2 separate regions of the Homo sapiens genome follow, and region 2 is linked to region 1. Evidence: fine-mapped expression QTL. A gene starts in region 1. The other region holds a variant in brackets. All regions are shown on one strand. Distances are between the middles of the regions.

Region 1 (2,910 bases):
GGAGCAGCACTTTGCAGACAGACTCCCTCTCTCCCCCTCCTCGCTCGCTCGCTCGCTGTGGCGCTGCAGGCAGGAGGAATAAAGCAGGTTGGATGCTGCCGCTGCCCGGCAGCAGACACGCACTGATGGGGACAGCCTTCGGCGGGTACTCGGCTGCGCTCGAGCCCCGGGACGCACCGCTCCGGTGGCGGCGGCGGAGGGACTAGAGGTCGGCCAGGGTCCTCCGCGGCGCCTGCCTCCTCTGCTCCCCCCTACCTTGTCTCCAGGGGGAGGAGCAGCTGATGGGAACGTGTGACTTTTTTCACCAATGGACCCAAACCCACCCCAGCTGGGCGCAGGATGGGGGTGGGGGTGGGGCACTGGAAAAAAAAAAAAAAAAACTTTTCTTGGCGCCTAGGCTGGTGGCTGAAGTGCTCGCCCAAGGCGAGGGTGGCCCTCCCCTCCCGGGAAGAAGCTGTGGAGCGGACCGCCCCCGCCTCTCTTCCCCGGCAGGGACCCTTCCCCCGCCGCCACGCGCCCCGCAGACCCCGCCACCTGGACACGGACCGGGCCAGTGCAGGCAGAGGCAGGTCTGGAGGGGGCGCGAGACGCAGGGATGCGGCCGGTGGGAAGCGGCCGGTGCCTCCTAGACGCCCGCCAGGTTCCAGTGGCGCATCCGCAGCTACGGTCCCCTCGGCGGCTCCGGGCAGGCGCCGAGGCGCGCTGCTGGCGGTCGCGGCGGCTGGAGGGGGCCGTGCTCACGGTGGCGTGGGGCCGACTTAACCCTTTACAGTCCCTCCAGGGGCTGGGGAAGGGGGTGAGGAGCGATGGCTGTGAGCGCCGACGGGGGCAGCCAGCCCGCAGGCGTCTCGGGCTCCTCCAGCCCGCCGCCTCCCCACGGCCCCAGCTCCTCTTCCCTTCCGCCCCCAACCCCCAACACTTTACCTGTTGGTCCGCGGCTAGCGGGCTGGGGCTGGCGGCGGCGGGGTCACTCCGGCCGCCGCAGCCTCCATCATTCGGGTTGGGATGGGGGACTTGGATTTGATTTTATTTGTGCGGTATCTGCCTCGCCCGGACGAGCTCCGGGAACGCCGCGAAGTTTGCCACTGTCTGGGGGCGGCGAGCGACGCCGGCTCGCCGCCGGCGTTCTCGCCCCCACGGCCCGGGAGCGCGAGCTTCCGAGTTGGCGGACGGCGGCGCGGCGTCCGCACTGAGCATGCCCAGCTCGGCGGCCGGACCGCGGAGGAGTTGGCTGAGAGCGCGGTGAGCGCGCTCCAATCCGCCTCTCCGGGTTTTCGCAGCCGCAGAGCGCGCAGCCCGCGGGCCCCGGCGCCGAGGCTGGCCCTGGGGTGAACCTGGGCGAGGGAGGGAGCGCCCTCTGGAGCCCTGCTCCAAGCCCCCCGCTGCACCCTCCGCCTCGACCTCCCCAGAGGTCGCGGTCCCCGTGGCCTGGGCCGAAAACCTCACCTGCGCCGGGAGCGTGGAAGGGGCGGGGGGGGTGATCCTCCAGGGCAGACCTTGGTCATCCAACCCGCCCTCGCTCCTCGCTTCGGGGCGCGGGCACCAAGATGCTGGGCCACCTGGCGCGAGCTCTGCGAGACCGGAGCCGCGGAGGCGGGCTCGGCCTGTCCTGAGGGACCCCGCGGGAGGCGTGCCCGGGAGAATGCGCCCGCACTTGGCCAAGAATGATGGCTGCCATTTATGGAGCCTTCGCTACGTGCCAGGATCTTGATAGTCAGAATCTCTGGTCCTTACAACCTTCCACGGTCTTACTGTACCCTTTTTATGGATGGAGAAATTGAGCCAGCTCAGAGAGGACCACTCACTTGCCGAAAGCCACGAAACGAGTCGGAATTTGAACCCACGACTGATTCTAAGTTTCTGACCTGTTTTCCCTGACTTGGACTTGGAGGGACTGGGTTCCTAACCTGTCCTTGCCTGATGGACTCACGTTCTCCACGGCTTGAGGCATTCTCGGCCTTCCCTCTCTGTAAGGTGGTAAAGGCAGATTCTAACCGGAAGCCTTTGATACATAGTAGGTGCTCTGGAAATGCTGGTTGAATCTGAACATCAACTTTGATGTTCGTTGACATTTAAGCAAAGGGGGAAGAAGGAGATAAATAAAGTGAAGGTAATGTGGTAGAGGCTAGTTCCTCACTCCTGATCCTGACCTGTGAGCACCTCCAAACCCAGTTTGAGGCTGAGTCAGGTGTTTAGCTTTTGGCTTCCTTAATCTGAACAATTACTTCTAGAGAGCATTTACCTAACTTCACTGGAGGGCATTTCCTGACCACCTTCCCCATCTTGCCCCAGGGTCTTCTCTTCCACTAATATCCTGGGATTAATTTCATGGCTGGACTTGCCCTTGTGATACAGGCATCTATCAAATGTAGCTCCCTTGTTTGAAAGAAAGGACAGTTTTTTGTTGTTGTTGTTTTCTTTGTTTGGTTGGTTGGTTGTTTTTTGAGACAGAGCCTCGCTCTGTCGCCCAGGCTGGAGTGCAGTGGCGAGATCTCGGCTCACTGCAAGCTCCGCCTCCTGGGTTCACGCCATTCTCCTGCCTCAGCCTCCCGCGTAGCTGGGGCTACAGGCGCCCGCCACCACGCCCGGCTAATTTTTTTTGTATTTCTTTTTTTTAGTAGAGACGGGGTTTCACAGTGTTAGCTAGGATGGTCTCGATCTCCTGACCTCGCAATCCGCCCACCTCGGCCTCCCAAAGTGCTGGGATTACAGGCGTGAGCCACCGCGCCCGGCCGAAAGGGTTTTTTTTATTATCTAACTTTATTAGGGAAATTATTAAACATACAAAAAGCTGAAGAAATCATATAAGGAGCCCTCAAATATTCATCTCTCAGCTATAAAAATTAAAGTTACTATTTTTGTTTCATCTTTCTCCCCCATTCCCAACTCACTGACATACACTAGTAAGGA
Region 2 (2,910 bases), 95 kb after region 1:
TTCAATAATACAGAAGCAGATGAAATAATAAGCGAAAGTTCCCTTCTGGTTTTTCTCCTTCACATTCAACGCCATTCCCCAAGGCATAGCCACTATTAATATTTTGGCATATTCCTCCAAGTGTCTTTCCATGCCTATACTGAACTCAATTAGTTTCTCAAACTCAAAGAGTAATTCTACTGCAAAGACATCCGGCCAAATCTTTGAAATTCCTAAAGAAGATGTTTGCACTTGACCATGTGTATCACAATGTTGGGCAAAGCCTTGGGCAAGAGGATAGTTTCAGCAATGAGGCTTCTTCCAGGAACCACACCTCTGAGAGTTCATTGTGGGCTACATCATAGATTCAGCCCTGTTCAGTACAGTTATTTGTAGGACCAAAAAAATGCTACATGGTGCCCAAGTGTAACACACCAGTAATTAAATTGATAAATCTTCTTTATTACCAATTCTTCTATAATATAGGTACATTCATGCCCCCAAGATAATCATAAAATATATTTTCTTTGGTATTCAATGCCCTGGAAATGCCAACAGAATTGTGTCTGTATGTACATCAGCTTTTAGTTGGAAAATTAGCTATGGAAAATTTACTCTCTCCTCTGACCTGGAAAATATTACTCCTACAAATTAAAGATAAGGCAAATGTCATAAGGATGTGAGGAGATAACTTTGATGAGATAAGAAACTGCAGTTGAATGAGATCCTACATGCATACTCACAATACATTAAAGCCGCTCAAATTTTCAAAGAAAAAATGTCTGCCTTTTTTCTGGAGCTAAAATTAATCATATTGCATACACTAAATTGTGAGTATTCCTACAGGGAATTCATTGGTTGGAAGTTACTACCAAGGACTAAAATGGAATAAAATAGCCCCACTTAAGAACTATAAATCTTTCTAAAGTTAAGTATTTCAGAGAGAACCTGTGTGAAAAGATATATTAGAATGGTAACTAAGCATACTAGGATATTGAGCAAGAAATTGTCAAAAATTTAAGTCTTATGTTTAATGTTTTAAAATTTGGTATAAAAATAGGAACCAATATGTAGCAAGTGTTAATTCTTGGTCCAGCAGTTTTCTTAAAACATCCTTGATATTTTAACTGTTTCTGGTGAGGCATCTCCCCAGTTCAGAAAGTAATTATAATTTAAATAAAAATTATTATAATAAAGAATAGCTAACATTTATTAAGCATTTATTATATGCTAAGCACTATTTCAAGGTATTTATATTATTCCATTTCATCCTCACAGCACATTATTATCACTCATTTTAAACATATGACTACTCCTGACTTTTAGAATTATTGGAGACTAAAGATCTGCTTATTTAGGGTGTTGTTTGGAGGTGACAAAAGATTCAGTGGTTTCAAAAACTTTTGTGCAAGGAGGGCATTCTGGGAAGATGACAAAGTAGGAAGCAACAGGAATTTGTCTGCCCACCTAGAAACAATTTCACTGGCAAAATCTGTCGGATGTAGCTATTGAGGAACTCTGGAGTCTG[T/C]TGAAAATTTGCAATGTCTAGGGAAGGCTTAGTAAATTGTGGTTAACTGTGGTCAATTTCAGCTCTTACTGCAGTAGCAGCTATCCTTCCTTCACCCCCAGCCCCATGGTATGCAGGTATGTACTTGTTCCCGAAGCAGCTTTTACACAGTTTGTGGGAGCCAGGGGACCCTGACCTCCAAATGCTGGGGATTTGTGCATTTGTGCTCTGCTCACTGATTGCAGCTTCTTCTTCTGTTTTTTGTTTGTTTTGTTTTGTTTTGAATAACCTGTGTGTGGATTTTTTTTTTTTTTTTAAACCAGGTCTTGCTCCATCACCCAGGCTGGAGCACAGTTGTGCGATCATAACTCACTGCAGCCTGGAACCTCTGGGCTCAGGAAATTCTCCCACTTCAGCCTCCCAAGTAGCTAGGACTACAAGCATGTACCAACACACCCAGCTAATTTTTAAAATTCTTTTAGAGACAAGGTCTCACTATGTTGCCTAGGCTGGTCTTGAACTACTGGCCCCAACGGATCCTCCCATCTCAGCTTCCCAAAGTACTCAGATTACAGGCATGAGCCACTGTGCCCAGCCATCACTGATTGCAGCTTCTGATCACAGAGGCGCAGACAAACACATAGTTGGCCATTGTTGCTGCATCTCTCCCACTGTGGCAAGCCCCTCCCTGTCCAGCTGAAGTGACTTCCAAAGGAGTAAATGGCTGGCACCACTCTCCACATCCTTAGTTTTCTCTTTTTTCCCTTTTGGGAGGCAGACATTGAAGACTAGGACATTCAAAAGCAACTGCATATACATTAGCAATTAGAACAAATGTTCATGCCCAGAGAAAGACAGGCTCAGAAAAGACCTGAGAAGACCTTAATTTTACACCTCAGGCTTATCCTTGGCGCAGAAACAACCTACCTAAAACAATTTTTAAAAAAATAAAAAAAAATGAAAATAGTATAACCTGGGAAAGGGAAAGAATATGATTTCCAGAGTTACTGCATTATTAGATTTAAATGTCTGGTTTTTGATAAAAAAAATTATAAGGCATACACAAAGAAACAGGAAAATATAGTCCATTCAAAGGAAGAAATAAATAAACAAAACAGCCCCTGAAAAAGATCTGATGGTCTCTGGGCACAGTGCCTCATGCCTGTAATCCCAGCACTTTGGGAGGTCGAGGCAGGCAGATCACTTGAGGCCAGGAGTTCGAGACCAGCCTGGTCAACATGGTGAAACCCCATCTCTACTAAAAATACAAAACTTAGCCAGGTGTGCTGGTGCACACCTCTAGTCCCAGCTACTTGGGAGGCTGAAACACGAGAATCCCTTGAACCCAGGAGGTGGAGGTTGCAGTGAGCTGAGATCATGCCACTGTACTCCAGCCTGGGTGACAGAGTGAGACTCTGTCTCTA

Direction of the effects. Alleles are on the strand shown, and positions count from the first base shown. SD is a standard deviation of normalised expression in the study named.
For the expression in neutrophils of the gene that starts at base 1,197 in region 1, T is the high allele of the variant in region 2 and C is the other (large effect, 1.1 SD a copy in BLUEPRINT).

What was found.
Region 2: its variant is fine-mapped to the expression of MED12L in neutrophils (BLUEPRINT, PIP 0.95).

The regions. Positions count from the first base shown.
Region 1 is chr3:151,083,951-151,086,860 of GRCh38, reverse strand. MED12L (mediator complex subunit 12L) reads right to left here and starts at 1,197. Exons shown (of 45, transcript NM_001393769.1): 1 at 925-1,197; 2 at 1-63. RefSeq lists silencers at 445-739, 1,176-1,545.
Region 2 is chr3:150,988,615-150,991,524 of GRCh38, reverse strand. The region is part of intron 1 of CLRN1-AS1 (CLRN1 antisense RNA 1); the gene reads right to left. Among named protein-coding and RNA genes, the nearest start is that of CLRN1, 17 kb to the right of the region's middle. The variant T/C (reference allele first, on the strand shown) is at 1,508.